Regions from separate parts of the Homo sapiens genome. Here region 1 is linked to region 2. The links come from fine-mapping of genetic effects on plasma protein levels. Region 2 holds a variant in brackets. A gene starts in the other region. All regions are shown on their forward strands. Region 1 holds the start of MYOM3 (myomesin 3). Region 2 overlaps LOC102723370 (a long non-coding RNA gene).

The links. PIP is the chance, under the fine-mapping model, that this variant and not a neighbour inherited with it causes the effect. Protein levels are from antibody-based Olink assays in UK Biobank. Linkage for the fine-mapping came from a reference panel and not from the study's own genotypes, which makes the PIPs less certain.
Region 1: MYOM3 starts here. The variant in region 2 is fine-mapped to the plasma level of the MYOM3 protein (UK Biobank, PIP above 0.99).

What each region holds. Positions count from the first base shown.
Region 1 is chr1:24,110,064-24,114,455 of GRCh38, forward strand. MYOM3 (myomesin 3) reads right to left here and starts at 2,072. Exons shown (of 37, transcript NM_152372.4): 1 at 1,968-2,072. RefSeq lists an enhancer at 2,274-2,782.
Region 2 is chr11:21,937,223-21,941,614 of GRCh38, forward strand. All of the region lies in intron 2 of LOC102723370 (a long non-coding RNA gene), which reads left to right. Among named protein-coding and RNA genes, the nearest start is that of ANO5, 250 kb to the right of the region's middle. The variant A/T (reference allele first, on the strand shown) is at 1,961.

The DNA of each region.
Region 1 (4,392 bases), not on the chromosome of region 2:
TTTTGCACTGAGTTTTCTCATATCCGGGCTTCAGTCACTGCTGGGTCTCTGAGGGCCCCCCTGATGCTAAAGCTAAAATCCCTGGAATGGCTTTCACACCTCCTCCAGGTGGGAATCCTGGTCTGCAGGCTTCTGGCATGGGAGGGTTCCTGCCCAGGCGTGGGGATGGAAACAGAAGAGGGATGACCGCCTGCCTTGGCCTGCTCCTGTCAGCTTCTGTGGGGTCAGCTCTGTCTGGCCCCTGCCTCTCTAGAGGGTCCTGCTGGAGGTGGCAGCGTGTGTGTGTGTGGGCGTGCATGTGTGTGTATGTGTGTGTGTGCGTGCATGTGTAGGCTGTCTTCTGCCTGGATGTGAACACAGCACCTAGGTGACCATTTCTCTAAGTCCATGGCATGGAAGGTGAGCCCACTGGCTTTATTGGAGAGCCGTTGGCCTGGAAGGGGCATGTGGTGGAGGTGTCTGGGGCTCGGGCTGTGGAGGGTCAGTCTTAGTGGGCTTTTACCCCTTCTACTTCCTAGAAGTTTGCTCCTTTTGGGTGTCTGCAGTTGTGGGCATCAGGAAAAAGAGAATGGATGGCTGCAGGGTTAGCTGGGACCAAGGGCTGCCCCCTAAAGCTCCCTGGGCTCCTGCTAATCATCTCAAATGACATAATGGGACAGTCACCCTCTTTGGCTTCGTATCACTCCCTCCCGATGGAAGAAGTTCTCTTTGCACCCAAAGAAGTGGCTAGCCCTGCTCATTCTGCTCTTTCTTCCTCATGGCCCAGGAGGAGAGCTGCTGGGTACCACCCTAGGTGGAGCAAGGACCCCCCACTCTGCCCCAGCTTTCCTGGGACACGATGGCCCTGGCTCCAGTGGCTGAGAGTTAACATTCCCTGGCACCAGCCACTGGCTCCCTTCCCCTGGATGCTCTGTTCCCGATTAGCACAGCAGGCAGGGGCCTGGCGCTCGTCCCTGACCTCGGGGCCTCCAGCAACCAGACCCCTGGCTTTAGCGGATGAGCTACCAATTCTTTTTAAAGCACTGACTGATGCGTGGTATTAAGCAGGGACAAGTTTGCGGCCTCACTGCCCTTTCCCAAAGGACCAGGGTGCCTCTTCCCGGAACACTGTGTGTGCCTGCGTGGAGGGGAAACTGCCCCCGCTTCCCTCTCTTGGGGTGCAAAAATCTGGGCCAGAGGTCCCACTGCGTGGCCTTCCCTATTCCCCTCTGCTTTCCTCCCAAGCCTCCATCTGCCGAGGAGGCCTCTCCCCTTCTTCAGGAGGGAAAGAGGAATGCACAGCAGTTGAGCCAAGACCCCTCCAGGAGCTGCGATGGGGGCGGATGGTGGCTGGGAGCAGAGACACATCCTGCGGGCGGCGGGTGGCACAGGCTGGGACGTGTTCTTAGCCAGTGGCTCCACCAGCTTCCGCGAGGCCGAATCCTGCCCTTGCCAGTCATGAGCTGAGGCAACTCCTTTCCCGTCTGGGCCTCGGTTTCCTGTCAGGCACTGGATGAAATCCCTTCCAGCTCTAAGATTTGGGATCCGAGGGCTCGCTCTCTTTCCCTGCCTGTGGGGTTGGCCAAGCCGGGCTCAGCCAGCTCCGCTCTAAGTTCGTGGAACTTGCCAGCTTAGCCTGGCTCCCGCTTATCGCTGCTCCATCACAGGAAAGACTCCAGTTCCCAGGGCAGCCCCCACTCTTTTTTTTTTTTTTGCAACTTTCACATCACAGACAGCTCAGCTCTCAGAAGACCCAGGGCCACACAGAACAGTGGGATGGGGCAGGGGTTTCTGGAATCCCCTCCCATTTTCACTTGGGTGCTGCCTCAGCACAAATTTCCCAGGCTCCTTTCACAACACACAACACACATACACACAAACACACACACGTGCACACACACACACACATGCACCCACAGATATCACTCCCCAGTGGCTGACTCTTAGGAGGCATCCCTCCCCCACCCTGATTTCTGGGGGTGACTCACAGAAGCAGTGTGCCCACTTAGGAGTCTCTGGGGAGAAGATTCCTGAGGCCGAGAGGGTCCTTGTTCTCTTCTTGCCCTCGGCTCAGCGGGCACCGGGAGAAGAATGCGATCCCGGAGACTGCACCGTCTTAAATATAGCAGCACTGAGACAGTACAATGACAATGGATGAGAACTATGGCATCGGGGACAGGGGGCCAAGGGGAGGGGCCATTCCGTGTCTCCAGCCTGCTGGGCAGCAGCGACAGGTGGAGCTGTCCGCCGCGTCCCCCCACACTGCTCCTCCTCTCAGCTGGGTCCTTTCTGCCCAACCCAAGCCCCTGTTAAAATGGAAAGGAGGGAACGGCTCAGGCATGGTCGTATGGAGGGCAGATCCCGTGCGGCGTTCTCAGCTGTCGGGAGTTCTGATCTGAATTCTGCCCCGGCTGACTGGGTGCCCTGGGGAAGGCGCTCAGCTTCCCTGAACTGACTGCCTTCTGAAAAACGGAGACAGTGAGACTGGGCACCTGGACTTCATGAAGACGGTGGAAGGAATATGACCTAAAAGTGAGTGTTTCGTGCTCAGAAGTTGTCACTGGCTAAAACAGCAATGTGTGGCTCCTGGTCCCTCCACCACTCCGGTAGTTACTACACGGCCCCCGCCCTGACCACAGTCATGTGTGTGTGGTGTGGTGCAGGCAGGAGGAGCTGGGGAGCCACCTACTGCTTCACTGTGCAAACTGCTCAGGCTGCCAGAGTGTCCCCTGAAGGGCCTTCTTATAGGGTAAACGCACCTGACAGGGATAACTGAAGCACGCTCCAAGAATGACCCTGTGTGGAAGACCTGAATATGTGTTCCGAGCTAAGGAATCTGGGGAGTAGCCAACCCGTTTCTTACCTACGATGAATATCTGAGCCCCCGTCCCGTCCCTTCTGGTGGAACGCTGGCCATACAGGGGATTGAGGCCCTGAGTTTTGGGTTAAATGAAGATTGCCAGGTGGAGGTCATTAGGGGATGGTGTAAAGTGAAAATGCTCTATAAACTGCATGCTGTTTGCAAGGGGCTGAGGTTTTCCTGCCCAGTCGGCCGCCACTGGTATGTTGTCCAGCCCGCCGCCCCTGGACCATTTCTGTATGTAAGGCGGTTCTCCTGTCCAGTTCATCACCAGTGGACTCTCTCTCCTGTAGGCAAGCCCCTAACAAACCCCCACGTTCCTTCCTTTCCTTCCTTCCCTTCCTTCTCTCCCTTTCTTTTTCTTTCTTTCTTTCTTTCTTTCTTTCTTTCTTTCTTTCTTTCTTTCTTTCTTTCTTTCTTTCTTTCTTTCTTTCTTCTTTCTCTTTCCTTCCTTCCTTCCTTCTTTCCTTCTTTCCCTCCCCCCCTCCTTCCTTCCTTCCTTCCTTCTCTCTCTCTTTCTTTCTTTCTTTCTTTCCTTCTTTCCTTCTTTCTTTCCTTCTTGAGTCAGAGTCTCACTTTGTTGTCCAGGCTGGAGTGCAGTGGCATGATCTCAGCTCACTGCAACCTCCGCCTCCTGAAACCCCCATGTTCCGTTTGCTGGCTATGGATCTTTTCTTTGGCCTCTCAAACCTGGTGCCTTCCCTACTGAGGTTAATAGGTGTTCGGCACCACACCTCTTCCCACCCTTTGCCCTCTCCTGCCATTCCCTCAGTCTCAATTCTTTCCCCCTCACATTCATTGGCACCTACCCTATGCCAGACCCTAACCTACAGGGGAAGTCAGGCACTTACGACAGGAGGTGATCAGGAAGGTGCACCTGGGTCGAGTCTCAGAGGATGAGCCGGTGAGGGGAAGGCTGTACCGGCCCCTAGCCAGAGAGCACAGCTTCCCTCCCTCACCCCTTCCTGCGACCTCAGGTGGCCACCCACACTACACCTGTCACTCTTGCTGGTGCCTCAGGGACTCCTCACTCGAGAGAAGGAGAGAGAGAGCACAAGTGAACTTTGCAGGCAAAATCTGAATCCCCTGCCCTATTTGAAAACCCCTTTCTAAGCTCTTCTGTGGCTCTCTCTTACAGCATCTTTTGGGAGAGAACATTTCTCTCCCATCTTCTATTGACCCAATCGAACAAGGGCTTTCCAAGACTCATCTTCATACATTTGCTGTGAGGGATGAGTGTGAGTGAATCCGTACGAACAGCAAAGAGGGCTTTGAGCTTCCAACTGAGCAGGAGACAGTCATTTAAACAGGTCCTCTAGCCCCGTCCTCCCAAGGCAATCTGGGGAGATGAATGAAGGTGCACTGGAGAGACAGGGTGCATCCTGGAGTCAAACCGGCTTAGGCTTTCAATTCAGTCCCACCACTTATTAGCTGGATGACCTTGGGGAAGGCACTCAGCCAGTGTGGTTTGATTATCTGTACAGTTGAAGACAACAATTTCCACTTAGCTGTCTCATTGAAAATGTTCAATCAGGCTGGGCATGGTGGCTCAC
Region 2 (4,392 bases):
GAAACTTTAGAATATCTATACGTCTTTCTTTTACTGACATCCTGAATGCTCAGAAAATGCTTCTTCACCATATTTATGTGACTTTATCAAAATATTTGTCTCAGAGCCTACATAACAACACTATTTTAAAGAAAAAATCTTAAAATGGATAGCCTAGTGTTTAACTGTGCAGACCTTCACACCAGAATGCCTGAGTTCAAATTCTACTCCCACCATTTCGTGTCTGTGTGATGTTGGAAAAATCACTTAACTTGTCCGTGCTTCAGTTTCCTCATCTGAAAAAAAAAGAAAAAGAAAAAAAAAAAAGATACAGCAGCAGTTTCTCCCTCAGAGAGTTTTGAAGATTAAAGAAATTAATAAACGGAAAGCACTCAGAATGCTGCTGGGTATATAGGGAATGCTATGTACATGTGGTCTTTATTATTAATGGATCTTGACAGTGGTTGAAAACAAAGTATTTAAATATGGTTTTATCCTTTTCTGTCTAATTATGCAGCATTGGTAATTTTTTCACTGCTTGTGAAAGTTTGATTCATTGCAGAGAAAACCAAATACGTCATTGATAGCTTTAATTATAAACCCATACTCTGTCCACAATAATTTTTTAAAATTAAACATAGTCTCACTTTTCCTACTTTAGTAGACTATGTGAAAAAAAAAACCTTTTGATTGACAAAATGATGACTTTGTGATACATATACAAAGAAAGTAGCCAACAATACGTTGTTATAATTCTTTCTTTATATAAACTTGGTGTCTCTCAGAAAAGCTGAGAGGAGAAAGAACAGCAATCATATATTCGCAGCATTTATTATAGTACCCTTCTTATTTACTATTTCTGGTTCTTGGCATTTGTGTTTGTATATTTGAATTCCTGTCTGGTGTGAGTTCCTTAATCAAATATAGCTTTGTTCCTACTCAACTCCTTTGTGCTATAATCATAACTTGATGTGATTCTTTAATTTGCCTTCAGTTACTTGAAGCTAGCAGAGGTCAGTTCATAAGTTAAAGGAATAAAGTTTTGTTCATATCATAAAAGTGCAAGGTGAGGCTGCAAATGCTGATGTGGAAGTTACAGTAAGTAATCCAGAAAATTTAGCTAAGACAATTGATAAAGAGGGCTATGCTAAACAACAGACTTTGAATATAGACAAAACAGCCTTATATTGGAAGAAGATTCCATTTATGACTTTCATAGATAGAGAGGAGAAGTCAATGCCTGGCTTCAAAGCTTCAAAGGACAGGCTGACTCTCTTCTTAGGGGGTAATGCAGCTGGTGACTTTAAGTTGAACTCAATGCTCATTTACCATTCTGAAAATCCTGGGGCTCTTTAAAATTACCCTAAATCTATTCTGCCTGTGCTCTACAAATGTAAGAACAAAGCTTGAATGACAGTACATCTATTTACATCATGGTTTACTGAATATTTTAAGCTATCTGTTAATACTTACTGCTCAGAAAAAAAAAAAATCCTTTCAAAATATCACTGCTATTGAGAATTCACCTAGTCACCCAAGAGATCTGATGGAGATGAACAAAAAAGTTAATGTTTTTATGTCTGCTAAAAGGACATCCATTCTGCAGTCCATGGATCAAAGAGTAATTTCTACTTTCAAGTCTTTCAACTCTCAAAGGCATTTCTTATTTAAGAAATATATTTCATAAGGCTATAGCTGCCATAAAGAGTGATTTGTGTGATGGATCTGGACAAATTAAATTAAAAACCTGCTGGAAAGAATTCACCATTCTAGATGCCATTAAGAAAATTCATGATTCATGGGAGGAGGTCAAAATATCGACATGAACAGGAGTTTGGAAGAAGTTGATTCCAAAACTCATGAATGAATTTGAGGGATTCAAGACTTCAGTGGAGAAAGTAACTGCAGATGTGGTATTAAATAGAAATAGCAAGACAACTAGAATTAGAAGTAGAGTCTGAAGATGTGACTGAATTGCTGC[A/T]GTCTCATACTAAAACTTGAAGGGATGAGGAGTTGCTTCTTATGAAAGAGCAAAGAAAGTGATTTATTGAGATGGAATCTCCTCCTGGTGAAGAAATCATGGACATTGTTGAAATGACAATGCATCCGGATATGAATGTAGAGCCAGTGGCCTGCTTTTGTCTTCATGACTTTCTTGCTTTGGCCCCAAGGTTGTGAGCAGGGGCTATGTAGCCTCTAGTCTTCTCAACCTCTCCTGGTGTGAACATTGAATTATAATAAACTGAGATGAGGGTTATATGAGCCCCATCTTCTCAGCATACCTCAGCACTTCCTCCCTCCATGAAAGGTAAAAGCTGTCTTTTTTTAAATTAAACTTTCTATATTGAACAATTATAGATTCACACATAGATGTAAAAAATAATTCAGAGAAACCCCATATATCTTTTATCTAATTTCCCCCAGTGGCAACACCTTGCAAAACTTTAGTATAATAACAGAATTAGAATATTGAGGTTTATATAGTTAAGACACAAATATTTTCTATCAACACAATTAACTCTTTTGTTGCCTTTTTATATTTATATATTTACTGAGACAAGGTCTCACTTTCTTACCCAGGTTGGATGGAGTGCTGTGGCCCAATCTCAGCTCACTGCAACCTCCACCTTTCAGGTTCAAGCAATCCTCCCACCTCAGCCTCCCAAGTAGCTGTGACCACAGACACACACCACAACACCTGGTTAACTGTGGAAACCACTAATCTGTCCTCAATTTCTATAATTTTGTCATTTCAAAAATGTTGTACAAATGGAATCATAGAGTATATGACATTTTTGAATTCATGTTTTTACTTAGCAAATTCTCTGGAGATTCATCCAAGTTTTTCATGTATCAGTAGTTTGTTCCTATCAATACCATAGTATGAATGTACAACAGTTTGTTTAACTATTCACACATTAAAGGACATCTGGTTTGTTTCTAGTTGTTGGCCATTATGAAAAATAAAAAGGCTGCTATAAAAATTTACATGCAGGATTTTTTTGTGAGCATAGGTTTTTATTTCTTTGAGATTTATGCCTAAGAGTATAATCACATAGTTGTTGCAGTTTTAGTTTAAGAAACCACCAAACTGTTTTTCAGTGTCTGTGTAATTTTACATTCTTTCCAGAAATCTGTAAGGTACCTGTTGTTATGGGCTGAACTGTATCCCTCCAAAATTCATATGCTGAATGCCTAACCCACAACGTGGCTGTATTTGGAGATGGGGCCTTTAGGGAAGTAATTAGTTTAAGTGAGGTCACGAGAGTGGGTCCCTAATCCCATATGAATGATGTTCTTATTATAACAGGAAGCAACACCAAAGATCATTTTCTCTCCTTTTGTGTGAAACCAACCTAATTGTGCCATAGATAGTTTATGGGATAATCATAAAAATTGGCCCTGCCAGTCTTAAAACTTGAGAAACTTACAACTGCCTTATCTGAGTTTCTTTCTCAGGAAACCAACCATCAGGCCTCCCAGATAGTATCAAGAAATTGAAACTTAACCAATCATCACATCTGGGCAATGAGACACCAGACCCCCTCATTCATCGTGATTGTTTCTTTACCTGCTGTAATTATTGGTTTACTAAGGGACCACCTGCTTCCTATTGACCAACTCCTCTTCCTTACCCCTCTCTAATTGCTGTTTTCCTGCACATAGCTACATTCCTTTTCTGCTATATAAACCTTCAATTTTAGTTAGTCAGGGACATGGATTTGAGACTGATCTCCCAACTCCTCTGCTGCAGCACCTGAATAAAGCCTCTTCCCTGGTCATTTTCTGCTCAGTGATTGGCTTTTTGTGTGGTAAGCAGCAGTATCTAGACCAAATCCCAGAGTTCCTGTAACATATACACACACAGAGAAAATGCTTTGCACAGACATAAAGAGAAAGCAACTGTTTGCGAGCCAGGAAGAGAGAAACCAAACTGGAGAGCACCTTGATGTAGAATTTCTAGCTTCCAGAACTGTGAGGAAATACATTTCTGTTGTTTAAGCAACCCAGCCTGCCATATATTGTTATACAGTAGCCCTAGCAAACTAACACATTGTTTCTCTACATTCTTTCCCACTTTTGATATTGCTACTCTTTTATTTTAGCCACTCTAAGAGGTTTATAGTGATATTGCATTATACTTTTATGTGAATTTCTCTAATGACTGATGTTGAGCGTCTTTTCATATGTTTATTTGCATTATATATTTCTTCTTTGGTGAAGTATCTTTTCATGTATTTTGCTCATTTTATAATTGGATTTTGTTTTAACGGGTGAGTTTTGAGAGTTCTTCACTTTTTCCTGATAGCTCAGATATGTGGTCTACAAGTGTTTTCTCTTATTCTGTAGCTTATATTTTCATTCTCTTTAGAGGGTCCTTCACAGAAGAAAGTTTTCAATTTTTATAAACTC